Linked DNA regions of Homo sapiens. The protein of the gene in region 1 purifies or fractionates together with the protein of each later gene. This does not show direct contact. Each region holds a gene or a part of one and is shown in the gene's direction. Other genes may lie near its edges. The genes, in order: TMEM165, ADPGK, POLD3 and ACTG2.

Region 1 (8,028 bases):
TTGGGAGGCTGAGGCAGGCAAATCACCTGAGGTCAGGAGCTCGAGACCAGCCTGGCCAACATGGTGAAAAATACAAAAATTATCCAGGCATGGTGGCCCACGCCTGTAGTCCCAGCTACTCGGGAGGCTGAGACAGGAGAATCTCTTGAACCCGGGTGAGCCGAGATCGCGCCACTGCACTCCACTCTGGTCGACAGAGCTAGATTCCATCTCAAAAAAAAAAAAAAAAAAAAAAGACGACTCAGTATACAAATAAAGACTGGAAAGTCCTATATTAAAGGAACTAGTTAAATACTAGTTTATTTTACTTAATCTAGTGAATTTTTAAATATTTTCTTTCTTTCTTTTTTTTTTTTTTTTTTTTTGAGACAGGGTCTGGCTCTGTCAACCAGGCTGGAGTGCAGTGGCACAATCTCAGCTCACCTCAACCTCCACCTCCTGGGCTCAAGCCATCCTCCCACCTCAGCCTTCTGAGTCTGGGACTACAGGTTCCCACCACCATGCCTGGCTAATTTTGTATTTTTTGTAGAGACAGGGTTTTGCCATGTTGCAGAGGCTGGTCTCGAACTCCTGAGTTCATGCAATCTGACCACCTTGGCCTCCCAAAGTGCTGAGATTACGCCCGGCCTAAATATTACTTTCAAATAGAACCATCTTCATGGGTAGCAGTTTATAATACACAAGTAGAATTTGGGAAATGTAGTCCCAGTCTTCCATTCTTCACAGTGGATGCTTCAGCCAGTTTCCTGTCTCTGCACACACACTGCCCGACAGCGGGCTTTCCCTTCTCCTTCAGAGCAGTAGCAGTTCCCTTTCTTCATTCCCACCCATCACAGTGGCAGCCCCCTCTGCCCTCCTGTATTCTGAATCCCACCCTTATAATATGCTTAGATTTTGCCTTTCTCCCAGCCGTTTTGTGAGCATTGTTCGTGTGTACCAATTTTTTCTCATCCTTTAAAAAGAAAAAAAAAAAGCCCCTTTTCTCAATTGTACATCGCAAATCCAACTCTTGCCCTCCTGCAGTGTCAGAGGACTTGGCTGTGATGGGAATAAGCCTTGGCTCTGTTCTCCTTGCATACTTAGCCCATGGGAACCCAGTTTCTGGCCTCACCAGGAATGTTGTTGTGCTTTGAGCTCCCTGTGGCCTTGCATGATGCCTCCGTTGGTCCTTACAGGAGGTGATTGGCTGGCCACCTCACTTGCTTTCTCCTGTGGACCCTTCTTTCTCTGTCCTTCCTTGAATGCTGCCTTTGTCCCTCATGATTATGCTATCAACATTCTTCTCTTTCTGCTTTCTCTGTAACAGGTTTATTGACTCTTTTTTTTGAGAGTCTTGCTCTGTCACCCAGGCTGGAGTACAGTGGCACAATCTTGGCTTGCTGCAACCTCTGCTTCCTGGGTCCAAGCGATTCTTCTGCCTCAGCCTCCCGAGTAGCTAGGATTAGAGACATGTGCCACCAAGTCTGGCTAGTTTTTGTATTTTTAGTAAAGATGGGGTTTCACCATGTTGTCCAGGTTGGTCTCAAACTCCCAACCTCAGGTGATCTGCCTGCCTCGGCCTCCCAAAGTGGTGAGATTACATGTGTGAACCATCCACCCACCCTGATTCAACTGACTCTTAACTTTAAAAATCACATTGGTCTTACCATACATAGTTCATCAATTGTGGGAGAGAAACTTGGGTGTCATGCTTTATTTATTTATTTTTTTTTTGAGATGGAGTCTCACTCTGTCACCCAGGGTGGAGTGCAGTGGCACGATCTCAGCTCACTGCAACCTCAGCCTCCTGGATTCAAGCCAATTCTCCTGCCTCAGCCTGCCCAGTAGTTGGGACTACAGGTGCCTGCCACCACACCCGGCTAATTTTTTGTATTTTTAGTAGAGACAGCATTTCACCATGTTTCAGTCTCCTGACCTCGTGATCCACCCTCCTCGGCCTCCCAAAGTGCTGGCATTACAGGCGTGAGCCACTGCACCCAGCCTATTTTTCTTTTTTTAATAAGAGATGGAGTCTTGCTTTGTCACCCAGGATGGAATTTGTAGCATAGTAGTGTGATCATAACTCACTGTAGCTTCAAACTCAGGCTCAAGTGATCCTCTCACCTCAGCCTCCTGAATAGCTGGAACTACATGCATGAACCACTGCACCATTATTTTATTTTTAAGAGACGGGATCTCGCTGTACTGCTCAGGCTAGCCTTGAACTCCTGGCCTCAAGTGATCCTTCTGCCTTAGCCTCCTGAGTGGCTGGCTCCACTCTGCTTGGCTCTGATATTTTTCCATAAAGCCTATCATTCATTTATCATGGAGGTATGTTAATTTTGCCTTCTTAATTTCTCTCAAATTCACCTGCTCTTTGCCTACAGTCATCTGCCCCGATCTGGGGCAACGCAGTTTCTTCCCAGGGCTGTTGCCATAGCATCGCAGTGGATCACCCTTCCTTCAGTCTTGTTCCCCTCTGGTTCTTTCTCTCCACTAGACTTTAAAAAATTTTTGAGATAGGGTCTTGCTCTGTTGCCCAGGATGGAGAACAATCATAGCTCACTGCAGCCACGACCTCCTGGGCTCAAATGATCCTCCCACCTCAGCCTCCCGAGTAGCTGGGACCACTTGTGCTTGCTAGGATGCCTGGCTAATTTTTAATTTTTTTGTAGAGACAAGGTCTCACTGTGTTGCCTAGGCTAGTCTCAAACTGCCAGGCTCAAGCAATCCTCTTGCTTCAGCCTCCCAAAGTGTTGGGATTACAGGCATGAGCCACTGCACCTGGCCTAGCGGATTTCTGAAGCATTAATCTGTTCTGTTACTTTCCAGCTAAAAACCAACAAGTGTCTGAGGACACAGTTTAAACTCCAAGATGATAGGGTCCTCCCTCACCTGGACTCCCACCTACCCTCATGACCTCCTTTTGTGAAATGCTGAAGGGCTCTGCAGCTGGTTGTCTGGTACTGCTGGCCTTTGCTTTCTATTTAGCATGTTCCTTCTCCCACAAAACAAAATCACATTCTCACTATGCCCTGTTCATTCTTCAGGACTATCTTCTGGGAAACTTTTACTACATACCCCTCTCCCCCTAATCTGAGTGTCTGCTTTGCTCAGGTAACATGTGTTCACTGGATAAATCCTTGATTCCTGGCACTGAGGCAGGGTTTCTGTTCCCAGGAAGCAGAGGCATACTATTCTGTGAAGGATTGACTGAGTTTCTCCTAATACCAAGCAGTATCTGAGGGAACAGATGTCTAGCTTAAAATCCTCCCTAGCACTTGTCATAGCAGTGCTACGTATTGCCTGTGAAGGAAGTTTAATAACTGCTGAAAGGTTCGATTAGCTTTATTTCATCAGGATTTGTTTGACTTTACAAATTGATTTGGGTTATTTCAACTTTTAGGTCTAGTCTTAAGTATAACTGGTACATATTCCTTCAAGCAGCCATTACACCTCTCATAAATTTATTATACACCTGCATTTTTATAACTATTATGCTTTTTAATTGTTGGCCACCATTTTTAGTGCTTCTGAATTGTTATGGTTCTCAAGCAGCAGTTGTCACCTTGGTTTTGAATTAATGCTGTGACGCTTGCTTCCAGGACCCCTATGGTGTAGCCGTGGGTGGAACTGTGGGGCACTGCCTGTGCACGGGATTGGCAGTAATTGGAGGAAGAATGATAGCACAGAAAATCTCTGTCAGAACTGGTAAGTCTTGAAAATTACAAATCAGATAACATTTTAGAATCACTGAGAGATTAAAGGGTGTTAGCTTTGATTATTTAAATTTCTGCTGCTGAAGTATACTTGGTTTTTCTAATTACCTACCATCTCTTATAGAGGTATTAATCCTGGTATTGCAAATACGGACTTTTTTCACCTGTGTAGAAGTTAGCAAAATACAAAGTCATTTTTATCGAATTCATAGTAGCTTCTTGTTAACATATTATCTTAGTAAAACAATTGTCATTTGGAAGTATGAGAAGTTTTTGGCTCTAAAAATGTGTCTTACAAGACTGGAATCATGTGGAGACCATATGTACTGATTCTGCTGAATATGTCCTGTGAAGCCACAGTTAGGTCTAGAGATGGAAGAATCGTCTCTTTGCTAGTCAGAAGACCTGAACATTTTCTTTTATAACTGGATTTTAAGATGAGTTATAGTTCTACTGTTGCTTGCCAGCACTGTCTGGATTTAATACAATCCTGTCATTTCTCAAAACAGTGCTGGAGAAAACCTGATTCTTAGTGTTCACAGTCAAGCATGTTAAGTATTGTTCCTTGTTATGTAAAAGGGGTTGAAGTGATTCTAATTTGTTTTCAAGGTTAGTTTAATAGATTGGAAGAATAATTGGCCGCCTCATCGGCTCCCTTTTCATTTTGTACAGTATCAAGGTATAGGAATTTTACTGTATTTGACTTTTTTTCTCTCTCTTCCAGTGACAATCATAGGAGGCATCGTTTTTTTGGCGTTTGCATTTTCTGCACTATTTATAAGCCCTGATTCTGGTTTTTAACAAGCTGTTTGTTCATCTATATTTAGTTTAAAATAGGTAGTATTATCTTTCTGTACATAGTGTACATTACAACTAAAAGTGATGGAAAAATACTGTATTTTGTAGCACTGATTTTGTGAGTTTGACCCATTATTATGTCTGAGATATAATCATTGATTCTATTTGTAACAAGGAGTTTTAAAAGAAACCTGACTTCTAAGTGTGGGTTTTTCTTCTCTCCAACATAATTATGTTAATATGGTCCTCATTTTTCTTTTGGTGCAGAACCGTTGTGCAGTGGGGTCTACCATGCAATTTTCTTTCAGCACTGACCCCTTTTTAAGGAATACAAATTTTCTCCTTCATCACTTAGGTGTTTTAAGATGTTTACCTTAAAGTTTTTCTTGGGGAAAGAATGAATTAATTTCTATTTCTTAAAACATTTCCCTGAGCCAGTAAACAGTAGTTTAATCATTGGTCTTTTCAAAACTAGGTGTTTAAAAAAAGAGACATATATGATATTGCTGTTATATCAATAACATGGCACAACAAGAACTGTCTGCCAGGTCATTCTTCCTCTTTTTTTTTTAATTGGGTAGGACACCCAATATAAAAACAGTCAATATTTGACAATGTGGAATTACCAAATTAAAAGAGAATACTATGAATGTATTCATATTTTTTCTATATTGAATAAACAATGTAACATAGATAACAATATAAATAAAAGTGGTATGACCAGTGCTTGTTTTTCCTTGTGTGTCATATAAAATTATCAGTATTGATAGGCCAATTTCTAAAGCTGATGTAAAAACACTAACATATTAAATATTTGAGATATGCCTAAAGTAGCTAAACAGGAGCCAGGCATTGTTCGAAAGCATTGTCACCCTTACAGTTCTGTGAGGTAGTAGGTACTAATATAAGGTTAAAAAAGAAAAAAACTAACTCACCCAAGGTTACATGGTAGAGTCACACCAGGCGGTTTAATTCCAGAGCCTAATGTCATTCATTATGCTAAGACTACCTCATTTTTTCATGGCAACTTCAGTCGTCACCCTCGTTTGAGTATATTTTGATTTGACTACTACTTCACCCAAGTAGCATAACAGCTGCTTTCTCTCAGCCTTTTATATTCTAGAATCATATGCAGTAACATTCCCATTAATAGCCTCACTAAATTGAAGGACAATTCTACAGAAACATCCATGTTATTTGTGTGAGGTATAATAGGAGACCCAGAGCAATTCAGGTTTATGAGCTACTACAAAGGTCCACAATGTAGTCTGCAATTTGAAGAGATTGTGAAAGAACCCAGTTAATCATCCAGCACTGTAGGATGCAGCAATTGTCCTACATGGTAACTCTGTGAGGAAGATGATAGCTACTACTGTGGAGATCTTAAGAGGAGTTTTCAGCTTAAATGCCAAGTTAGAAGTAGCACATGTTGGTAAAAAAGGTCATATTTGTAGTTTTCTGCTATAGGAAGTATCAAAGGGTAGAAAACAATGTCTGTGGATTAAGATAAACTCTGTGGTTAGACAGTCTATATTGCCTTAGATTGTTTGTTTGTTATAAAGAAAGAGTGAGGAATTCTCACTAGTATTTTTTTTTTTTTTTTTGAGAGAGTCTCACTCTGTCGCCCAGGCTGGAGTGCAGTGGTGTGATCTTGGCTCACTGCAACCTCCACCGCCCGGGTTCAAGCAGTTCTCCTGCCTCAGCCTCCCGAGTAGCTGGGATTACAGGCGTGCACTACCACGCCTGGCTAATTTTTTGTATTTTTAGTAGAGATGATGGAGTTTCGCCATGCTGGCCAGGCTGGTCTCGAACTCCTGACCTTATGATCCGCCCACCTCAGCCTCCCAAAGCGCTGGGATTACAGGCGTGAGCCACCATGCTTGGCCTACTAATACGTTTTGTTTGTTTGGAGACAATCTATCTCACTCTGTCACCTGGGCTGGAATGCAGTGGCGCAATCTCGGCTCACTGCAACCTCTGCCTCCTGAGTTCAAGCAGTTCTCCTGCCTCAGCCTCCCAAGTTGCAGGGATTATAGGTGCCCGCCACCACGCCTGGCTAATTTTTTTGTATTTTCAGTAGAGACAGGGTTTTACCATGTTGGCCAGGCTGGTCTTGAACTCATGACCTTAGGTGATCCACCCACCTCAGCCTCCCAAAGTGCTAGGATTACAGGCGTGAGCCACCGCACCCAACCGTTTTTTCTAATAACAACAGAAAAGACAATTCCTCGTAGGGAGTAGCTGGCACCATCATCGTGTAACCTCAGTTCAGGTAGCTTGGTCCCATTACTAGCTTCATATGCGAATAAGAACAGCATCGCATTCTGAGGCACCACAATCTTGTAGCAGGACATAATTCCTCTGAGAATTTTTGGTAAGTCAGACCTAAGCTATAAGGTAAAAATCGCTACTGCAATAGGCTCCATTGTTGAATAAAAGAAAGGGAAATGTCATTGATAGTGATCTTAAAATATTTAATAGTCTTTCTTTAAAATCCAAAATGTGATTCTTACAAGTTATGTGCCACATGAAGCAGGTGTTATTTTTTGAGAAATGCAGGTGATAACTGAAAAACATAGCACTGAGGTATTTTTTATTTTTAAAATTGAAGGAAACAAAGTCTGGATCTAATTATTTTTACATTTACAAAAACTGCTACTGCTTGGCTCTTTTGCTATAAGTTTAGGTTCTGAATACATGACAAGAGTATGGGAAAGAGCAGAATAATAGTACACGCAGTTTTAAAAGCTATGCACATCATAACCTGGAATAATGATTACACAGCAAGAGGCCTGAGTGGAGGTAGGCTAACAACACATTTTGACTTTCTCCTCAAAGGATAGCTTTGAAAAACAAGTGTAACCAATTGTTACACCAAATTAAAATGGCAATATTAAATCGGTAACAAAACGATCCACATTTTATACAATATTGTATTTCCAAACATACATAGGTCATGAAAATCAGAGAACCTAATATAGCACCGTTGAAACCATTCATTATCCTTCATGTGTGTATGCAATTCAGAATTTCGGCAGAAGACAACAAATGGAAAATGCCTTTCGTTTCTATAAATCATTTTGGATTTCAATTAAATCTTTGCCTTAGTAAAGGGTATTCTTATCTCAAGATCAATTAGCCGTTTTTAGCTCCACCGTTTTGGAAGTAAAAATGATGAGCTACATCTACTTTTTAATTTAAAACCAAGAACCAAGCAGTAAGGACAGCAATGTCAAGAATATCACATTGAGAACCACACAGAACATTATAAAGAATTTGGTGCATGTTTTAACAACTACCAACTGATGTTAACAATGAAAAATTTACAAAGGTAAAACTTTTTTTTTTTTTTTGCACTGACTGGTTTCAATACAGCACTGAATTTAACTCATCTTTGGGCTTCAATCTTTACATAGAGTGAATATGAAAATGCCATACTGAGGCCTTCCCCAACTTAAACCATAGTAAAGATTTCAAAATCATTCCAGTATGGTCTGAATGGTAACTGTTCTGGCTGACACATCTTTTTTTT
Region 2 (8,954 bases), on another chromosome or scaffold:
GACAGACCAGCAAGAAAGACTAAAAAGAAAATTAAATATAGCTCTCAGAACCAACCATAGCAACAGCAGGGAATGTTTTGAATTCCAGCATGTAGCAGACACTGTGCTAGACTGTCTTAAGATAACTCTACCTCCCACAACCATTCTGCAAAGTAGGAATTATTTTGCATATAAGGAAACTGAAGAACAGAAAAGTTAAATGACTTACCTGAGGGCACACAGATAGCAGGTGACAGAGTGAAGATTTGCAGCCAGGAATCAAATCCCACCTTCTTTCCATTGAAGTATGAACTGTTGATTGCAGCAACCATTCACCACCCCTCCCTTCATCCAGAACCCTGATTTTGTTAAGATGTACTGCCTCTTCCGTGCTGTCCACCCTAGGGATGGCAGAGCAAAAGACAGAACAAGCATGGGCCCCTGAGGACTCTCTCTGGCAATGCTGCCAGGCCATCCCAGTTAGATGTTTTTGCTTCCTTTTATTTATTTTTCCTTTATTTTAGTTTTAGGCCCAGTGGTTGTAGAACTGCTAGGGTTCTTGAATCAAAAAGAAAATGTAGTTAGAAGGCAAACTTCCCATTTCCTTCCAAACCATTGCAAGTAATACTGAAACCCAAACCAGATCACTACAGCAGATGCTACAAGGGCTACAACAGGACTGGTTTACGCAGCCTGCAGAAGAGAACCCAAGCAGGAAGGCCTGTGAGTGTAAAGGGCTCCAGCAGGCAGCCTGGTAGCAGTGTTCCGGGAAGCCTGAGATGGCTAAGAGCACTGTGAGGGTGGAGGCCTCTGCTTTATCCTGCCCCGATTCATTCGCCCTATGAAGCTCATAGGTCCCTGCCAGACAGAAGCCCACACAGTCCTGTGCCTCCTGCCTTTCTAGGCTCAGCGCTTCTTCCTGGTCCAAAGCAGTTAATTTCCAAAGTGAAAATTCCGGGCCACTATGTTGTCACATCCCCTCAAGCTACAACCCGGTTCCCAGTCTGTGTAGGAAGTTCTATTACTATCAAGAAACTCTCATGTTCTTCTTACTGCTTTGCTGCTGACGTTCCTCTCATCTGGCTCCTGTGCCTCAACACCCCTGCCTCTCCCCTGCACTGGCCAGAGGCAGTCCATCCTCTGAGCACTTCTAGTCCCCTCCTGACCTCACATTAGTGAGGAGGATGTCTGATTGCCAAGGGCTATGGCTACAGACACAAAGCTTTCTCTTTTCGGGGGCTGGGATCCTTTATTCCATCTCTTCAATCTCTTTGGAGTTTTCTGTAATCTTCAAAATTGTGCTCTGACTCTGGCCTTTGGGCATGGCCTGTGGTGGGCTGTGTCCCTGGCATCAACAAAGGCTTTGACACAGTGTGGCCTTCAAAGAGCAGCTTGGATGAAACCCCAGAGGCCTGGAGCTGCAAGGAAAGTGGGTTAGCCCAGCTTTCACAGGGACCATTTGGTCCCACTTTAGTTTCTGCTCCACGTGGGAACAAATGTGCCCCTTAAGGCCTTTCAGATTGCGGGGGTGACGCTGATGGGTATTTATGTTAAAGCCAAAACCTTCAGCTAATTTGGAAGCTGACAGGATTCTGCTAATTCTTTGTGTTCATACAGGATCTGCTCCCTGGCCTTCCAGGTCAGGATCTTGGGTGGGGCACCTGGAGCCTCCATTTGCCTCTGAATTTTCTAGAACCAAATTGCTTTTCTTCTCTCATTTCAAGGTCCTAGGAGAGAGAACCAATAGGAAAGGCCATGTCTGGAAGCAATTTGGGTGGGGGCGGGGGGTGTCTTGAGGCCTGCCCAGCCCAGCCCTTTCCTCTTTGTTCAGCCTAGGCAAAGGAGCCACAGCTGCCCACTCAGAGCTGTTTTAATTGTCCCCAGAAACCTAACTTCTAGAAAAACAATTGGCTTGCAAAGGATTCCAGACTCTCTGAACAGATAGATGATCAGAATCTTTTCTGATTTTCGTTAAGGAAATATTTCAAGAGGGACTGTGGCACCAAGACAGTGAATGCCTGCCCCTGAGCCCCGATGAGAAGGAATTAAGGGCCCTGTGACTCTGTATGTGACCAGAAGCCACATCAGGCTCCGCCAGGCCTGGCAACTGTCCCTGGTGTTCTGTTCTTCACCTCCTGCGGCTCCTGACTCTTCAGTTCTCAGTTGGAATTGAGGTCAGCTCTCTCGTTTCCTTGTCTGGCCCCCTTCACCACCCACAATGCAAACCCACACTGAGTGACTAACCAGCAAGAGGCCCACAGCAGGTCCCATAGCAACCAGAGGGGGCCAAGCTTGCTACCACAGCCCACAACATGCCAACACCCCATTTAGACTTTTACATGAGAAATAAACATCCACTTTGTTCAACTGCTGTTGTTTTGTCTCTGTGACTAAATCAACAATTCTGGCAAATCTAGAAAGAAGCAGAAGAATTAGGTGCAAAGTGCTGGAAGTTTAGCAGCCTCTCGTGGGAGCAAGAAAGCCCCAGGCAGGTTTCTGTCCACATCACTTTAATGTGGAGCACTCTCCTAGTCCTCTAGATCTGTCTGTTCTATCACCTTCCCACAGTTCAGCTTCCTGTGCTCCCCAAAACTTCACCTTGGAAACATATTTAACTGGTTCTGACCTTTAGCCTTGTGTGACTTTGTGGGTCCACAGCCAATATCAAATAACTACAGACAACAGAAACTTGGTTAAAATTCTCAATAGAGGGAAATGATCGCTGGACAGTCAGCAGACTCGCTGTTTTCAGGTCAGCTGCTGGCTCAGTCCCCTCTGGGTGCCAGGGAAACCTGACAGCTGAGGGTTGTGAGAAGAAGCAGTTTCTCTAGGAACTGACTGACATGTCTCCCTAAGGAGAGAGAAGTGACAGGCAACTCTAGGGAAGATGGCTTTCATGGCTTCATAAAGATCTGACTGGCTCTTTGGCTTCTTTTCCAAGGTAGCCCAAATCTGTTCCTGTGTGAATATCTTTGTCGAAAGGGATGGCATGGTCAGGTAGGCTGGGTAGGATGAACTGCGGGAAGGTAGATGACCAGGATGGGGAAGTTCTGATGAGGTGGGGCTGAGGAGAATGAAGACTAATGCCCAAGATCAAAGTTAGGGAAATAAAGTTTCGCTGCCAAGTCCAAAGGTCAGGGTCACAGTGGAAAACTGGACACAAAGCCAAGGTCAGGAGCCGAGAGAATTGGAAAAGTGGAAACAAACCAGGGAACAAGACTAGGCCGGGCATTGTGGCTGATGAGAATGAGCTGGTACCCAGCCTAGCTTCACTGTCTCTCAACCTAGCCTCATGCACAGAAAAGTATCAGCGAAGAGAGGGCTGGGTTTAAGTGATGTCACCAAGGGGGAACAAAAGAAAGCAGCGTTTCTCAACCCAGGTCCATAACTCTCGTGTTGTGCACAAGATTGTGTACATTTTCCAGAGTTTGTTAAAGGGAACAGCGCCCCCAAAAGGGTTAAAGTTTGATTGTGGAATAATCTGGTTATCCAGAAGAGAACGATCTCTGCGGGCTCTCCTGTCTCGACGAAGTCCTTTAGTGGCTGAGGGTCTCGGCCACCTTCCAAAGGGGCGGAATCCCCCTGCCTCGCGTACCCCAGGGGTCTCGGCAGCGCCGCTATTCTGTGAGCCTATTCCTCTCAGAAGCGCCGAGCACTAGGCCTGGAAGAGGACAAGTCTAGCAAATGAGGGGACACGGGCGGAGGGAGGGATTAAAAGATGGGGGTGTGATCCGTGCCAATGGGGACACCCACTGGTTCGAATATTAACGCGAGGTTTGTCCGCTTCTTCACAATCTGTCCGTTTCGTTTTACTGCGAAAGCAAATGTGTTCCCATCCCTCTATTTGGGGATACGATTAGAGTTCCGGGAAGGGGGTGCAGCGCCCGGACTGGCACAACCGCCGTTGTCCCACCTCCTCCGGGGCGGCAACACCGCAGTGCCAGGCCTGGGACTGAGGCGTGGGGTCCCCCCTCGCTCCGTCCTGGCGCCGCCCGTCGCCCCGCCCCTTGGGGGGCCCCGTGGCGCACCCTTGTGACGTAGCGCTTGTGTCGACATCGGCGCGCGCCGAGCCCGGAAGAGGCGCGGGCTAGGAAAGGAGTTGGTTCGCGCAGGTGCGGCGCCTGGGTCCCCATGGCGCTGTGGCGCGGCTCCGCGTACGCGGGCTTCCTGGCGCTGGCCGTGGGCTGCGTCTTCCTGCTGGAGCCAGAGCTGCCAGGCTCGGCGCTGCGCTCTCTCTGGAGCTCGCTGTGTCTGGGGCCCGCGCCTGCGCCCCCGGGACCCGTCTCCCCCGAGGGCCGGTTGGCGGCAGCCTGGGACGCGCTTATCGTGCGGCCAGTCCGGCGCTGGCGCCGCGTGGCAGTGGGGTGAGTGCCAACGGGGCCTGGGTCTCTGAGCCTCCGAGGTCGGCCTTGGAGGTCGGGCGGAGCCGCGCAGAAACAGGGCTTCTCAGAGGTCCCCGGGAGGCGCTGCTGTCCGCGCTGGCCCCTTGGCGAGAAGTGTCGGACGTCTGAGTGGAACCCGGTTCGTCACCGCTGCTCTTTCCACTCGGCTGGCCTCTGCGCCTTTCTCTCATCCCGGTAGGACCAGCCCTAACAGCTTCTTGCTAATCCCGCTTTGTCTGACACCTTTCTCCGAGCCTTCTTCCTCGTTCCAACTTTTAGCCCCTTCTCTTCTGGCGACTGTTGTTTTGCAATCAAAGATACTTGACCTTACCCACTATGACAACACTCTTCCTCTTTCTTCTGAACTTCTTGAAGACGCGTGATGTCTGCCTTTACCCACTTTCGAAACGCCGTGTAGTCTAGAAACCACACGACTGTACTGCAACTCCTCTCAGATTTGCCTTTTTGAATCTTCATTATCTACTCTGCAGCCTTCCACGCATTGAACACGCCCTTCTCCGTGAAATTCTTTTCTTCCCCTGACTTCAGTGACACTGCATATTTAAGGTTCTTCCAAATGACACTACCTCCTTTCTTTGTACTTTTCCTTGGGAATGTAATTATTTTCTTTATAGTATTGATACTGTAAACACTAACTTTAGTCCCTGTCTCAGTTCGATTTGACTTTCTTGCCGTAATCTCAGAGTTATGTATAACCACCACATAAAAGCAGGCCCTCTACCATGTAGCTCACTACTTTCTGTGGAGTGTTGGGGCCGGGAGGGGTAAAGTAGAGCAAACTTGGCCTGAAGATTAAATGACATCATTCATGTAATCTCTCTAGCATAGTGCCTGCTTTAAAAAGCATTCGATATTAGCTATAATTTTGGGGTTTTTTTTTTTTTTTTTTTTTGGACACAGGGTCTCTCTCTCTGTCGCCTAGGCTGGAGTGCAGTGGTGCAATCACTGCTCACTGCAGCCTCGAACTCCCGAGCTCAAGAGATCCTTCTGCCTCAGCCTCTGGAGTAGCTGGGACGACAGGCAAGCACCACCACGCCCAGCCAATTTTTTATTTATTTTATTTTTTTTAGTAGAGTCGAGGTCTTGCTATATTGCCCAGGCTGGTCTCGAACTCCTGAGCTCAAGCCAGCCTCCCATCTTGGCCTCCCAAAGTGCTGGGATTAAATTGTCCTTCCTTGCTTTATGCGCGTTCATTCAGCAGATATTCACCAACTACATGGTTAGTGTCAGGTCTGTGCTAGGTTCTTAAGATACAGAGATGGGTGAAGCAAGGCCCCTGTCTCACTTGTTGGAAACATATTATTGTATCAGTCATTTGGGCTGCTAGAACAGAATACCACAAATTAGGTGGATTAAACAACAAATCTGTTTTCTCGTGGATCTGGAGGCTGATAGTCCAAGATCAAGGTGTTGGCAGGATTGGCTTCCGATGTGGCCTCTCTTCCTAGCTTGCAGCCAGCTGGCTTTTCAGTTAGTCTGCGCATGTACACTCCTGGTGCCTCTTATTCTTCTTATGTGGACACTAGGTCCTTTTGGAATAGGGCTCACCCGTATGACCTTATTTAACCTTAACTACTTCCTTAAAGGCCCTACGTCCAAATATAGTCACATTGGGAATTAGGGTTTCAGCATATGAATTGGTGGGGGGTGGACAATTCAATCCATAACAATTATGGTTAGAAGAGGAACAACCCACGAGGACCAGGCAGAAGCCTTAATGCCTTTTACGACCTTACCTTAGAAGCACATAGGAACTCTTCTACCAGAGTCACAGGTCCACCTGGTTTTAAGGGAGGGGACATAGAACAAACCTTGATGGGAGGAGCATCAGTGTCACATTGTGAAAAGAACATTTGGAATGGGGCATCTTATTGCCACCATCTTGGAAAATATATTTTACTACAGTGACTTTCATAGGACAGACACTAAATAAATGAGATTTCTTCAAGCCAAAGTGGGAACAGGTCCACCTAGGCAAGAGAACCAAATGTGAAAAAGTACATGGTTTGTTTGGGAACAGGTCGGCCTTGTTTTGGAGCGAGAATCCTATGGTAGAGGGTTGTAAAGAGATGATGCTGAGAACGAAGGGTTGGACCAGATTGTGAAGGGCCTTTTATGGGGAAGCCATAAAGGTTTGTAAGTAGTTAACTGATGACAAGTTCTTTGTTGAGAATTGGTGGGAATGTGAAGGGTGGATTTTGAGCAGTGGTTCTAAACTGTTTCACTGCTTCTCATCATTTATTACCCAAAGAGGATTTTTAGCCCAAAGATAGGGGGATATAGGAGGGATGAGGGGGAGCAGGTGTAGTACTTGTATCAGAATCTCATTTTGAGGTTGTAGTTTGACTTCTCTAGAGACACACTCGTATTCACACTCTCTGTCACACAGACACACTCAAAATGCCATTTAATGTGATTCATAAGGAGGAATATCTTGACATCCTGACACTGGTTTAAGAGGCCATTGTAGGGTTTGTGTAAAGGGAGAAAGGAGCCCGAACCAAACTCGGCAATGATGTAGAAGAGGTGAGATTTGAGAGATAACCTGAATAATAGTTTGGATGTGGTGGAGTAAAGAAAGGCAGTCAAAAACGACAGGTTTTTAATATTGGATATCTTGTTTAGTTTTTGTTTTCTGTTTGAGACAGCATCTCACTCTGTCACCCAGGCTGGCGTGTGCAGTGGCATGTTCAAGCTCACTGTGGCCTTGACCTGTCATGCTCAGTGTCCCGAGTAGCTGGAACTACAGGCATGTACCACCACACCCGGCTAATTTTTATATTCTTGGTAGGGACAGGATTTGCCAAGTTGCTCAGGCTGGTCTTCAACTACTGGGATCAGGCCTTGGCCTCCCATCTTGGCCTCTGAAAGTGCTGGAATTACAGCTGTGATTCCACACCCAGCCCAGTATTAAATATCTTATAACAACTAATATGGTTAGGCTTTGTGTCCCCACTCAAATCTCATCTTGAATTGTAATCCCCATAAGCTAATCAAGGGAGAGACCAGGTGGAGGTAATTGAATCATGGGGGCGGTTCCCCCATTCTGTTCTCCTGATAGTGAGTTCGTTCTCATGAGATCCTTTGGTTTTATAAGGGGCTCTTCCCTGCTATTCACTCGGCACGGCTCCTTCCTGACACCTTAAGAAGAAGGTGCCTTGCTTCCCCTTCACCTTCCACCATGAATGTAAGTTTCCTGAGGCCTTCCCAGCCATGCTGAACTGTAAGTCAATTAAACCTCTTTCCTTTATAAATTACCCAGTCCCGGGCAATTCATTATAGCATTATGAAAATTGACTAATGCAACAACTTTATGAGGGAGGCAGATAACAGATATTGTCACCGAGTCTTCTCACATTGATTTATTTGCCCAAGATCTTGTAGCTATCAAGTGCCAGAGGAGCAATTGAAGCCTGGTCTTTCCCATTTCTGGTTCCTTGTTGATGCCATGTTGTTGCCATTAAGAGAGATTTAAGAAAAACAAGTTTCAGAAGATAAATTGGATTTCAGAGGAGGAGAAATGTACATACATTGTTATGGGATTTCAGATGAAGCTTCTCTGTCAGCTACTGAAAATGAGAAGCTGGTTTTTAGGAATATATTGAGAAACAGGATTGCAAATTTTGGAGACACTGGCACTTAGGTTGAAGCCAGAGACTGGATAGGATCACCCAGGAAGAGAAGAGGAGAAGGTAAAAATGGTAAAGGTGGAATTCTGGGAGGCACTAGCCCTTAAATGCTAGTGCATTAAGGGGCTGGTGAAAAGGGGTCAAAGAAGTAAAGGATAGGAGGAGTTTTAAGGCGTTTCTAGGAAACTTCCCCTGCTTCTAAATCAGACTCTGGTACCTATTCATTGGTTTAAAAATGATGAAACCCGGCAGGCATGGTGGCTCACGCCTGTAATCCCAGCACTTTGGGAGGCTGAGGTGGGTGGATCACCTGAGGTCAGGAGTTCGAGACCAGCTTGACCAACATGGAGAAACCCCATCTCTACTAAAAATAAAAAAATTAGGCGTGGTGATGCATTTCTGTAATCCCAGCTTCTCAGGAGGCTGAGGCAGGAGAATCGCTTCAACCCAGGAGGCAGAGGTTGCGGTGAGCCGAGATCGCGCCGTTGCATTCCAGCCTGGGCAACAAGAGTGAGACTCTATCTCAAAAAAAAAAAAAAAAAAAAACCCTCATGCTAATATTTATTGCCCCTGGAACTGGCTTCACCCTGAACCTTGAAACATATCTTGGTCTTCTCCCCTGTATGAATTCTCCATTCTAGCTAGATAATTCTTTATTGTATCCAAACACAAGGTTAATCCCTTCATGTACAACTTTGCTTGTGTATACTTCCTACGTGGGTTTCAGTATCATCAGATAAATCTGGGTTTGAATTTCAGCTCTGCCTGTCTGTGGGCTTTGGAATGTTAGTTAATCCATGGCCTCACTCTTCTCAGCTGAAAGCAGTGATGACTAATTAGCGATCTTACCGCATTTTGCAAATAGGTTTAATCTATCTGAAAATGCCTGCCTAGCGTGGGGTGCTTCTTAAAGATCAGCCGCCTTTCTTCTATCTAGATGCAG
Region 3 (8,168 bases), on another chromosome or scaffold:
TTCCTGTCTAACTGTAATTATGTATCCTTTAGACCCACATCTCCCCATTCCCCCTCCCCTAACCACTTCAGCCTATGGAAAGAAAATTCTGCTTTCCACTTCCGTGAGATCACCTTTTACAGATTCCACAAATGAGTGAGATCATGTAGTATTTGTCTGTGTCTGGCTTATTTCAGTTAACATAGTCTCTTCCAGGTTCATCCATTTTGTTGCAAATGATAGGATTTTATTCATTTTTATGGCTGAATAGTATTCCATTGTGTATATACACTATATTTCCTTTATCCATTAATGGACATTTATTGATTCCATATCTTGGCTGTTGTAAATAGTGCTGCAATAAACATGTGAGTGCAAATATCTCTGACATACTGATTTCATTTCCTTTGGATGTATATCCGTAGTGGGACTGCTGGATCATACAGTAGCTCTATTTTTGATATTTTGAGGAACCTCCATACCGTTTTACATAATGGCTGTATTAATTTACATTCCCACCAACAATGTATAAGCATTCTGTTTTCTCCATACCCTTGTTGTGTTTTCTTTTTGATGTGTTGCTTGTGCTTCTGACATAATATCTAAGAAGGCTTTGCCTAACCCAGGGTTATGAAGATTTACTCCTGTGCTTTTTTCTAAGATTTTTTAGTTTTTGCACTTATATTTAATTCTGTAATCCACTTAGAGTTTAAAAAAATCATGGTTATCACTATGTTTAAGTTTTCTACAGATCGTGTGCTTGTTAGCATCATTATTATTATTGTTTTGAGACAGGGTTTCACCCTGTTGCCCAGATGGAAATGCAGTGGCGCAATTTTGGCTCACTGCAACTTCAGCCTCCCAGGCTCAAGTGATTCTCCCTCCTCAGCCTCCCGACTAGCTGGAACTACAGGCGCATGCCACCACACTTGGTTACTTTTTGTATTTTTTGTAGAGACGGGGTTTTGCTGTGTTGTGCAGGCTGGTCTCGAACTCCCAGGCTGAAGCCATCCTCCTGCCTTGTCCTCCAAAGTGCTGGGATTGCAGGCATAAGCCACTGCACCTGGCCATGTACTTGTTAACATTAGAAATGCTTCAGTCGGGTGGCTGTGGTGGCTCAGTTGTATTAGTCCCAACACTTGAGGAGGCTGAGGTAGGAGGATTGCTTGAGCCCAGGAGTTCAAGACAAGCCTGGGCAACATAGTGAGACCCACATCTTTATAAAAAGTTTTTTTAAAACATGAGCCTGGTGTGGTGGCATGCACCTGCAGTCTTAGCTACTCAGAAGGCTGAGGCAGGAGAATTGTCTGAGCCCGGGAGTTCAAGGCTGCAGTGAGCTATGATCACACCTGGGTGACAGAGCAAGAACCTATCTCTAAAAGAGAAAGAGAGGAGAGAGAAAAAAGGGAGGAAAGAAAGAAAAAGAAAAAAATGCTTTAGTTCCTACAGTAAGACTATACTAAAGCTTTCAGATTAGGTGTTAGTTCAAGCTAATTTTTAAATGAATCACTGAAATGTATAAATATTGACTATATCTTCTAGGAATCACTTGGAGTTGATTTTTTGTGTATGGTGTAAGGAAAGGGTCCAGCATCATTTTTTTGCACATGGGTATACGGTTATCCCAGCATTTTATAATTCATATTATTGTCTTGGCATTTTCTTGCTAATTATATGTCTTTCCCCACTAGAATATAAACTCTATGAAGGCAGGAAACTTGTCAGGTTCATCACTGTTCTGATTACTATTGCTGTGTCAGAAATCACCCCAAAATGTAGTGCCTGGAAACATCATTTTATTATGCGCATAGATTCTTTTGCTTTGGAATTTGGATAGGGCACAGTGGGAATGGCTTATGTCTGTTCCATGATGTCTGGCATCCCCGCTGGAAAGTCTCAATAACTGGAACCTGGTCATCTCTAGGCATCTTTATGCACATGTCTGGCTGTTGATTCTGGCCATCTGTTGGGCCTTTAGCTGGGGCAGTGGACTAGAGTGCTTGCATGTGGTCTATCTGTATGGCCTGGGCTTTCTCACAGCCTGGTGTCTCCAGGTAGTCGGACTTCTTACATAGAAGCTCAGGGCTCCAAAAGCTTGTGTTCCAGCACAATGTAGAGCCAATTGCCTTTTCTGACTAGCCTCAGAAGTCAAGCAGTGAATAACTGGTCATACCAGATTCAAGAAGTGGGCTCTACTTCTCAATGAGAGAATGTAGAAGAGCATATGGAATGGAAGATGCTGTCTCAGCCATCTTTGGAAAATATAACATGCCACAATTATTCTGTCTTCAGTGTCAGGCACATAATGAATGCCAATACATACTGAATGAATACCAAGCACTATGGTTTATGTTTGTTTTGAGATAGAGTCTCACTGTATCACCCAGGCTGGAGTGCAGTAGTTCAAACATGGCTTCCTTTAGCCATGACCTCCTAGGCTTAAGGGATACTCCCACCTCAGTCTCCTGAGAGTAGCTGGGACCACAGGTACATGCCACCATGCTAGCTGATTTTTTTATTTCGTAGAGTTGGGATCTTGCTGTGTTGACCAGGCTGGTCTTGAACGTCTGGACTCAAGCAGTCCTCCTGCCTCAGCCTCCCAAAGTGCTGAGATTATAGGCATGAGCCACCATGCTCGGCCTCACTATAGTATTTTCACAAACATTTCTCTCAAGTAATTTTTTTTTTTTTTTTTGACGGAGTCTCGCTCTGTTGCCTAGGCCGGAGTGCAGTGGCGGAACTCAGCTCACTGCAACCTCCACCTTCCAGGTTCAAACGATTCTCCTGCTTCAGCCTCCTGAATAGTGGGGATTACAGCACCTGCCACCACGCCTGGCTAATTTTTGTATTTTTAGTAGAGACAGGGTTTCACGATCTTGGCCAGGCTGGTCTTGAACCCCTGACCTCGCAATCTGCCCACCTCGGCCTCCCAAAGTGCTGGGAGTACAGGCTTGAGCCACCGTGCCTGGCCTCATACTGTTTTTTTTTAGCATTATTTCAGGCTATGTCATACAACAGTAAACCTGACAGACAGGGTCCCTCCCCTGGTTGATTTAAACAAGATAATTTCAGACTGTGAAAATGCTGTGAAATAATTAAGTTGGGTTAGAGAAAGCGGTATGGGCAATACACTGTACTCATCCTGGGGAACATTATGGGTGGAACTGATCAGGAGGGAAGATTAATGAATTAAAATGGGAAGCTATAATTAATCATGTGTAGGAAGTGTATCTTGTAAGAAGTCATATATGTTGTTATTATTATTATTTTTTTTTTTTTTGAGACAGCTCTGTTGCCCAGGCTGGAGTACAATGGTGCAATCTCGGCTCACTGCAACCTCCGCCTTTAGAATTCAAGCAATTCTCCTGCCTCAGCCTCCCGAGTAGCTGGGACTACAGGCACATGCCACCACGCCTGGCTAACTTCTTGTATGTTTAGTAGAGATGGGGTTTCACCATGCTGGCCAGCTGGTCTTGAACTCCTGACCTCGTGATCCGCCTGCCTCGGCCTCCTAACATGCTGGGATTACAGGCATGAGCCACTGTGCCCAGCCTGTTGTCATTCTTATTTAAGAATATTTTATATTTTGTTTATTAAAAAATATTTGGCTTAGGCTGGGCGCGGTGACTAATGCCTGTAATCCTAGCACTTTGGGAGGCCGAGGAGGGCAGATTGCCTGAGCTCAGGAGTTTGAGACCAGGCTCAAGCTATCCTCCTGCTTCTGCCTCCCTGAGAGCTGGGATTACAGGCGTGAGCCACCACACCTGGCGCTACTGAAATACAAAAATACTAAAATACAAAAAATTAGCCAGCGTGTGCCTGTAGTCCCAGCTACTTGGGAGGCTGAGGCAGGAAAATCACTTGAACCTAGGAGGCAGACATGGCAGTGAGCTGAGATCGCGCCACTGCACTCCAGCCTGGCGACAGAGCGATACTCTATCTCCAAAAAAACAGAAAAGTTTGGCTTAAATTAGATAAAACATGTTTTAAAGACTCAAAAAGTAGGCAGGAATTCTTTCCTTTTTTTTTTTTTTTTTTTTTTTTGAGATAGGATTTTGCTCTTGTTGTCCAGGCTGGAGTGTGATGGCACGATCCCAGCTCACTGCAACCTCTGTCTCCCAGGTTCAAGCGATTCTCCTGCTTCAGCCTCCCGAGTAACTGGGATTACGGGCATGCGCCACCATGTGCCCGGCTAATTTTGTATTTTTAATAGAGACGAGGTTTCTCTATGTTGGTTAGGCTGGTCTCAAACTCTCAACCTCAGGTGATCTGCCTGCCTTGGCCTCCCAAAGTGCTGGGATTACAGGTGTGAGCCACCGCACCCAGCCACAAGAATTGTTTTTTAAAATAAGAGTTTGCTTTGCATTTTCTGTTAATATAAGAGAGAAGAACTGGGGTCAATTTGGGGAGACAAGTGCATAGAGGACAATGACTGATGATATGGGCAGGACTATTAGTTGTGGATAAAAGATAGTGCATTTGGCCAGCAAGCTTGCAAGCATTTTGGGCATGGTACCTGCCTATCATGTCTTCCTTTAGCATGGTCCAAACTAGCATCAATAAACCAAAATGTTTGTGGATCTGTTAGCTCATTTATCCTTCTAACACAATTGTTGTAATGGAAAGAAACATTAGAGGGCAAAGAGGAGGAATCAGCAAAAATCCTGACTAGGGCACCTTTTTGTACTCAAGGTGTTAACAGTCTAGAGGGGATGCGTCATATGTAAAATAAATAGTTAGAAGGCAGGGTGATATGTGCTGTAATAATAGATATGGGATAAAATTTGTTAGAGCTTGGATGGCAGAAGCTCATTGTCTAGGCATGATGGCTCACTCCTGTAATCCTAGCATTTTGAGAGGCCAAGGCAGGAGGATCACTTGAGCGCAGGGGTTCGAGGTCAGGCTGGGAGATATAACAAAAGCCTGTTTCTACCAGGAAGAAAAAATAATAACCAGGCATGGTAGCATGCACCTGTGGTCCTGTTTACTTAGGAGGCTGAGGAAGGAGGATGGCTTGAGCCCAGGAATTCAAGGTTATAGAGAGCTGCGCCACTGCACTTCAGCCTGGGCGACAGAGTGAGACTCTATCTCTTAAAAAAAAGATGTGCCCTGGTGACCTGATGGTGTTGGGGAAGGGTTCATACTTCATAGAGGAGGTGACAACTGAGCTGCTGTCTTGATGAGAAATTAGGTAGTTGAGGCCTGAGAAGAGCCTTCTAGGCAGAAGGAAGGGCATATACAAAGGAATAAAGAGAATTGTAGAATGTTTCATTAAGGATGAAGATAGTGTAGGTATGATGGGGAATGGTCAGAGATACAGAGCCCAGAACAAGAAGGGTCTTACCTGTCATTGCTAGAGATTTGAAGTTGATCCTTAGGGGATGAGAAGCTACTGAAAGCTTTGTTACACTTTTTTTTTTCTCCTCCCTTTTTGTGGAACATGGGGTCTCGCTATATTGCCCAGTCAGGTCTTGAACTCCTGTGCTCAAGCTATCCTCCTGCTTCTGCCTCCCTGAGAGCTGGGATTACAGGCGTGAGCCACCACACCTGGCGCTACTGAAAGCTTTATAACAAGGAATTATGTTTCAGACAAGACTCTCTAGCAACCTTTTCAACATCAACAGTGACTAATAGGCATTGCAAATTTAATATGCCCCCAAACCTAACTCCTGACTTCTCCCCTCAACACCTGCTTTTCCTGCTTTTCCCCCATCTCAGTGAATTACAGCTTCCTTCTTTGGGTTGCCTAGTCCAGTCATTTTTGACTCTTCTTTCTCTTACACTTCAACACAGTATATCAGCAAATCCTGTTGTTTCTCACTTTAAAATATACCCAGAATTCATCCACTAATTACTACCTGCACTGCTACTGCCCCAAACTGAGCTACCAGTCATCTCTAGGCTGGGTTATTGCAATAGCCTAACTGGTCTTGCTTCCTCCCTTGCCCCTCTACAGTATATCATCCACATAACCTTCTCAGATCCTTCTGAAAGGTGAGATCACATTACCTCTGCTCTCAACTTTCTAATGGCTTCTTAAAGTCCTGTGGTAGCCACAAAGCCCTATGTGCCTGGCACTCTGCCCTCTCTCCCCTACTACCGTCCTTATTCCACTACAGCACACTGGCCTTTCTGTTCCTTGGATCTTGCTGACCTTCCTGCCTCAGAACCTTGGTATTTGCTGGACTCTCTGCCTAGAACATTGTTTCCCAAGATATCCACCTTGCTGGCTCCCTCCCTCCCTGCAGGGCTCTGCTAATGAGGCCTTCCCTAATCACCTTATATAAAATAGCAAAACTTCTCAGGCACCCTCTGTCCTCCTTAACTTACTTAACTTTGTTTCCATAGACTTACTGTCATCTGAGATTATATATTATATGTTTATTGTGTGTCTCCTTTCTAGAATGTAAGCTCTAAGAGTGGACTTTGCTTTATTCACTGTTCTGTCCCTAAGGCGTAGAACATAAAGTAACCACTTGGTAAAGTTTTGTTGATTGAATGACTTGATTTGCATTTTTTAAACTTCACTCTGGCAGCATCATGGATAATGAAGGTGAGGTGGGGAGGAGAAGAGGAATTGATACTTGGAATTGAAATAGTCTAGTCAAGAGATTTGGAGGGCATGGAGTCAAGAATTACTTGGGAAGGAGAGCTGATGAGACTTGGCAACTCATTGGATAGGAAGAAGTGAAGTATAATGACTCCCAGATTTCTGGCTTGCGTGGTTTCAGCAGATGATGTTGTTGTCAGAGATGGATGAAATAAACCGAGGAAAATATGTAGTAGGGTGACTAGCCACCCTGGGTTTGCCCAGGATGGTTGGTTTTGTCACTGAAAGTTCCACATCCCAAGAAACCCCTCAGACCCAGGCAGACAGGAATGGTCAGTCACTCTAATACATAGAGTGAAAAAATAGCTAAAGACAGAATACCAACAGTTAAGGAAAGGGAGGAGGTAGAGAAGTCTCTTCAGAAAGTAAAGCAGAAGCAGTGAGAGGGGTAGCAGAAGACTCAGTGGGGCATGGTTTTATGGAAGCTGAGAGAGCAGGCTCTTCAAGAAGAGAGTGAACAGCAATGTAGGTTGAGCTTCTCTGGGGATTTTTAAATTTCTAGCTATGCTTGGCAGAAGTATATTATAGACAGATTGTAAATGTTTCTCAAAATAAAAGACATGTCTCTTTGTTGTTTTTAAACTAGATTATTGAAGGGAGCCAACTTCTGATACTTGCTGGATCATAGAGTAAAAATGAATTTAGAGATTTTACTAAAAGCAACATTATTTCTGCATTTAGTATTTGGCTATCTCAGGTTAATGAATTATTCTGAATACTGGGCAATGTGAGTAAGCTGTTACATTCTGCAATTCTGAACCGGCATTAAATCTGAGTAATCATAAAATTGGAATTTCAGAGCTGGACATTTGTGATCATATACTTAGTAGTTCTTAATGTTTTGGAGTAATTCACTCTTCAGAATCCATTGAAAACCCTCACACATCTCCCAAAAAAGCACATAAACATTTGCTGAAACTTTAGGATTGGAGGGTTATAGATGGCCACCTGAATCCCAGGTTAAAAGAATCACTAATCTAATATAACCCTCCTGTTTACGCCTTGGGATATTAAGAGGCCTAGACAAATTAATTAACTTATCCAGAGCTTAGACAGTTACCAAACTACTTCTTGATTCAGTGTTCTATTTATTATGTATCATTGCCACTGTTTTAATGCAGGTTCAGTCCCTCTTGGTCTATTATTAATCTTATTTCAGTTAATGTACTGATCACTGTGCCAGCTCCAAACACATGGACTCTACTCCCCATGTCCTGTCTGAAGTCCATCCTTTTTTTTTTTCAACTGTCCATAGGCCAAGCAAAAATGCTACTGTTCAGAAAATTTGATGGACTACCAGATTTCATTTATCTTTTAAGTCATTAATTAAGAGTTGATCATGTAAAAACTCTTACTGATGTCTTACTTGTGCCTTCTTTTCTTTGGAATAGGATGCTGTATGATTATGTTGAAAGGAAACGAAAAGAAAATTCAGGAGCCCAACTGCATGTTACCTACTTGGTGTCTGGCAGTCTCATTCAGAATGGACATTCCGTAAGTTCTCAGAGCCTTGTAATGAGCTTAAATGTGTTTGTGTTATGAAGAGTGTTATAACATAGTTCAGGGGAGAGAAAAAAAT
Region 4 (5,272 bases), on another chromosome or scaffold:
TCTGAGGACCTGCTATGTCTGTGGTCCATGCCAGGCCCTGGGGGAGTGGGTGTGGAATAATGAACTATCAAACTGGCATAGTTCCTGCCCTTAATGAGATTACAAACCATTCTACAGGCCAAGAAGTGCTGTGATTTTTGCCAAATAATCTTTTATTCTTCATTGTCCTTTAAGATCATGTTTGAAACCTTCAATGTCCCTGCCATGTACGTCGCCATTCAAGCTGTGCTCTCCCTCTATGCCTCTGGCCGCACGACAGGTGAGTAATCCTGTAATCCATTCCTTTTCTGACTTCAGGGGAGGTAGGGAAAAGCTGGGGTCTGGCAGAGGCTCCTGCTCAGAAGAATCAAATGGACAGCTGAAGTCCAGGCAAAATCTTTCTTAGGGATAATAGGTGAGAATGCCCATGTGGAATGCCAGATGTGAGCCTAGCTGGTATAGTTGGAAAAAACATCCAGCAAGAACTGTTTCCCTCACAGTAATAATTCCAGGAGCTTCTACACATACACACATTCCAACAATACTGGAATGTTTCTGCTTCATGAAGCAGAAAGAGTAGAACCTGTGGTGGTGGAAATGTAAGTGCAGTTACACATTGCTTAATGACAGGGATACGTTCCGAGAAATGTGTGTCATTAGGTGACTTTGTCACTGTGGGAACATCAGAGAGTGTACTTGCACAAACCTAGACGCTGTAGCCTACTACATGCCCCGGCTGTATGGCGTGGCCTATTGCTTCCAGGCTACAGACAGTATAGCATTTAACTATAATTAATACTGTAGGGAACTGTAACAGAATGGTTAGGTATTTGTATAGCTAAACATATTGAAACATAGAAAAGTTACAGTGAAAATATAATATCAAAGATAAAAAATGGTACACCTGTGTAGGGCACTTACATGAATGGAGCTTGCAAGACTAGAAGTTGCTCTGGGTGGGTTAGTGAGTGAGTAGTGAGAAAATGTGAAGACCTAAAATGTTACTGTGTACTACTGTAGACTATAAACACTGTACACATCGGCTGTACTACATTTATAAAAATATTATTCTTGGCCAGGCACAGTGGCTCACACCTGAAATCCCAGCACTTTGTGAGGCTGAGGTGGGCGGATCACCTGAGGTCAGGAGTTCCAGACCAGCCTGGCCAACACGGTGAAACCCCGTCTCTACTAAAAATACAAAAATTAGTTGGACGTGGTGTCAGGCACCTGTAATCCCAGCTACTTGGGAGGCTGAGGCAGAAGAGTCACTTGAACCTGGGAGGCAGAGGTTGCAGTGAGCCAAGATCACGCCACTGCCCTCCAGCCTGTGTGACAGAGCGAGACTCCGTCTCAAAAAATATGTATATATATATATTATTCTTTCTTCAATAATAAATTAACCTTAGCTTACTGTAATGTTTTTTACCTTATAAACTTTTTAATTTTTAAAGCCATTTTTACTTTTTTTGTAGTGACAGTAATAGAAAAACATCTTTTTTCGACTTTTTTTTTTTTTTTTTTTTGAGACGGAGCCTTGCTCTGTCACCAGGCTGGAGTGCAGTAGCGTGATCTCGGCTCATTGCAACCTCTGTCTCCCACGTTCAAACGATTCTCCTGCCTCAGCCTCCCATGACTTTTTTTTTTTTTTTTTTTTGAGATGAAGTCTCACTCTGTCACCCAGGCTGGAGTGCAGTAGTGCGATCTCAGCTCACTGCAACCTCCGCCTCCTAGGTTCAAGTGATTCTCATGCCTCAAACTCCCAAGTAGCTGGGACTACAGGAGCGTGCCACCATGCCTGGCTTATTTTTGTCTTTATTTAGTAGAGAAAAAAAAGGAGTACACCCTTTAAATGTCGATCAGAAATTTCCAGGGCTGACCATTCTCCTCTCCAGATCCATCTCATGTTGGCCAGGCTGGTCTCGAACTCCTGATCTCAAGTGATCTGCCCACCTCAGCCTCCCAAAGTACTGGGATTACAGGTGTGATCATCACCCCCAGCCAAAAATAGTTTCATTTATATCCTTTATTCTACAAGCTTTTTTCTATTAAATTTATTTTATTTTATTTTTTACTTTTAGAGCTTTTTTGATAAAAACTAAAATATACACATTAGCCTCGGCCTACACAGGTTCAGGATCATCAATACCACTGTATTTCATCTCCACATCTTGGCCCACTGGAAGGTCTTCAGGGTTAATAACATGCATGGAGCTGTCATCTCCTATGATAACAATACCTCCTTCTGGAATATCTCCGGAAGGACCTGCCTAAGGCTGTTTTACAGTCAACTTTTTATTTAATAAGTAGAAGGAGTACACTTTAAAATAATGATTAAAAACATAGTATAAGAGCTGGGTGCAGTGGCTTATGCCTGTAATCCCAGCACTTTGGGAGGCCGAGGTGGGTGGATCTCTTTGAGCTCAGGAGTTCAAGACCAGCCTGGGCAACATGGCTACAACCTATCTCTACAAAAAATACAAAAAGTTAGCCGGGCATTGGTAGCTCACGCCTGTAGTCCCAGCTACTCGGTAGGCTGAAGCTGGAGAATTGCTGGAGCCCAGGAGGCAGAGGCTGCAGTGAGCTGAGATCTCACCACTGCACTCCAGCCTGGGTGACACTCAAAAAAAAAATAAAAAAATAAAAGACAGTATAAGAAATACATAAGCCAGTACTAGTACCATAGTTGTTTATTATCATTTTCAAGTATGTTGTACATAATGTATGTGCTGTACTTTTATACAGCTGGCAGCACAGTAGGTTTGTTTACACCAGCATCACCACAAACACGTGAATAAAGCGTTGCCCTATGACGTGATGTCAGCTATGATGTCACTAGGCAATAAGAATTTTTCAGCTTCCTTATAATATTATGGCACCACCATTGTGTATGTGGTCCGAAGTTGACCAAAATGTCATTATGTGGACATGACTATATGTGGCCTTGGTATAGAAGTGTGCTCAGCGTAACAGAGGAAATCTCAAAATAAAATGGTCTTTAATAGGAACTTGACAGCTTCCATAAACATTTGTTTAAACGTTCATTAATCATTTATTCACTGATTTATCCATTCATTCATCCATCATATATTTTCCATTACTCCCTACAATGTGCCAAACATGGTACCAGGCCATGGGCACACACTGACAAATAAGACAGACTTTGTCATTATGGAGCTAACAGTTTAGTGGGAGATAGACAAAAGTAAAAGATAATTTCACTGCATGTGATAAGGACAATGATGGAGAAATGCATGGCATATACAGTGTCGTATCCTGTGCTTTGCACTTTGGTTTTTGTTTTTGTTTTCATTTTGAGATGCAGTTTCGCTCTGTTGCCAAGACTGGAATGCAATGATGTGATCTCAGCACACCACAACCTCCACCTCCCGGGTTCAAGCGATTCTCCTGCCTCAGTCTCCCGAATAGCTGGAATTACATGCACCTGCCTCTGCACCCGGCTAATTTTTGTATTTTTAGTAGCAATGGGGTTTCACCATGTTGGCCAGCTGGTCTTGAACTCCTGACCTCAAGTGATCTGCCCCCCTTGGCCTCCCAAAGTGCTGGCATTACAGGCATGAGCCACCGCGCCCAACCTTGCACTTCGTTGCAAACATCATGTTTAATAGCCACGTGGTAGTCGTTGTATGATGGTTTCATTATGTATTTATTTTACCATTTCTCTATTGCTGGAGCTTTAGGTTGCCTCTCATTTTTATTATACAATATGCCATGATTCAGGTCCTTACACAAGAGTAAGTTGCTGCTTTCTGGACATTTATTTTGCATCTGGCCCTTACTGAACCATCTAACTAGGTCTAATGGTTTCTTAATTGATTCTGTTGGGTCTTCTGTATAAAACCACATTATCTGCAAATAATGACAATTTTGGTAGTCACACCTCCTATTTCTATTTTCTGTTTCACTGCAATTGGCTAGAACATCCTGGACAATATTAAAAAATGGTGGTGATATTGTAATGTTTTCTCATCCGTTATGATGTGGCTGTTAGATTAAGAAATATGAGGCTGGACGCAGTGGCACATGCCTGTAATCCCAGCACTTTGGGAGGCCGAGGCAGGTGAATTGCCTGAGGTCAGGAGTTCAAGACCAGCCTGGCCAACATAGTGAAACCCCACATCTACTAAAAATACAAAAAATTAGCCGGGCGTGGTGGCAGGCACCTGTAATCCCAGCTACTCAGGAGGCTGAGGCAGGAGAATCACTTGAACGTAGGAGACAGAGGTTTCAGTGAGCCGAGATCATGCCATTGCACTCCAGCCTGGGCAACAAGAGCAAAACTCTGTCTCCAAAAAAAAAAAAAAAAGAATATGCAATGTAGACTTAATGCAAATTGACAAGTATGCATTACCAGTAATGTGTTTCAAGGAATACAAAAAAAGGACACATTTTACTTGCCCTCCAGAGGCCTACAGTCTCACTGGGGGGAAAAAAGTGACATACATAAAAAATAAAAAATATGATTGATGATTCTTGTGATGGGTGAATATTCTTAACTGGTAAAGGAAAATATGGTAGTCAGAGCTCATTGGTAACAGTCCTAGAAAGAGACTGATGAAAGGCAAGAATGAGAATTTTATAAGCCTGATCCTCTCTGTCCACAGGCATCGTCCTGGATTCAGGTGATGGCGTCACCCACAATGTCCCCATCTATGAAGGCTATGCCCTGCCCCATGCCATCATGCGCCTGGACTTGGCTGGCCGTGACCTCACGGACTACCTCATGAAGATCCTCACAGAGAGAGGCTATTCCTTTGTGACCACAGGTATCCAGCCCCTTTTCTGATTCTGACTGGAGCTCAGAACCAATCTGGTTTAGGACAAGAAGTTCTCAGGACCAATGAGAATTCTGTGACTCTGTGTCTTTAAACTCTCCTGAGATAGACTGAGAGGCCTTAAGCTGGGGCTAGGCCTCTGGATAAGACCAGATAGTCATGGAAGCAGTCCCTCCTTCCCCAGAGACCAGCTGCCTCTGTCCACGTCCACACCAGGACTAGGGCTAGTTTCCACAGGCTGAATGGTAGTGAAGATCTGCTGATGCATTTCATTACCTAGGGGCACCTTTGGTTTGAGGACAAATTGAATAAGTGAGGCCCGAATTTCTAAGGGGAAGGTGTCATGTGGCCCACCTGGGCAATCGGCATTTTTTAGGTGGGAGCCTCTCTAGGTTCTGTAAGATCAAACATCTGAGTCTAGACCAGAAATATGTCCTGCAAAGCCCCCAGGAAGGCCTAAGGCTTTGTCAGAAATCTCATGCAAAGTCCTGCATGGG

Evidence for each region.
Region 2: the proteins of TMEM165 (region 1) and ADPGK purify together in Homo sapiens (affinity purification with mass spectrometry; one large-scale study listed by BioGRID and IntAct). This does not show direct contact.
Region 3: the proteins of TMEM165 (region 1) and POLD3 purify together in Homo sapiens (tandem affinity purification; one large-scale study listed by IntAct). This does not show direct contact.
Region 4: the proteins of TMEM165 (region 1) and ACTG2 purify together in Homo sapiens (affinity purification with mass spectrometry; one large-scale study listed by BioGRID and IntAct). This does not show direct contact.

The regions. Positions count from the first base shown.
Region 1 is NC_000004.12:55,420,954-55,428,981, forward strand, and holds the end of TMEM165 (putative divalent cation/proton antiporter TMEM165 precursor), read left to right. Parts: intron 1-3,584; coding exon 3,585-3,690; intron 3,691-4,422; coding exon 4,423-4,499; 3' UTR 4,500-5,222; downstream 5,223-8,028. UniProt on the Homo sapiens protein: Putative divalent cation:proton antiporter that exchanges calcium or manganese ions for protons across the Golgi membrane.
Region 2 is NC_000015.10:72,778,848-72,787,801, reverse strand, and holds the start of ADPGK (ADP-dependent glucokinase isoform 4 precursor), read left to right. Parts: upstream 1-4,043; 5' UTR 4,044-4,110; coding exon 4,111-4,343; exon of another isoform or gene 4,344-4,967; intron 4,968-7,587; exon of another isoform or gene 7,588-7,605; intron 7,606-8,954. UniProt on the Homo sapiens protein: Catalyzes the phosphorylation of D-glucose to D-glucose 6-phosphate using ADP as the phosphate donor. GDP and CDP can replace ADP, but with reduced efficiency.
Region 3 is NC_000011.10:74,596,712-74,604,879, forward strand, and holds part of POLD3 (DNA polymerase delta subunit 3), read left to right. Parts: intron 1-7,980; coding exon 7,981-8,083; intron 8,084-8,168. UniProt on the Homo sapiens protein: Accessory component of both the DNA polymerase delta complex and the DNA polymerase zeta complex.
Region 4 is NC_000002.12:73,908,881-73,914,152, forward strand, and holds part of ACTG2 (actin, gamma-enteric smooth muscle isoform 1 precursor), read left to right. Parts: intron 1-174; coding exon 175-259; intron 260-4,604; coding exon 4,605-4,766; intron 4,767-5,272. UniProt on the Homo sapiens protein: Actins are highly conserved proteins that are involved in various types of cell motility and are ubiquitously expressed in all eukaryotic cells.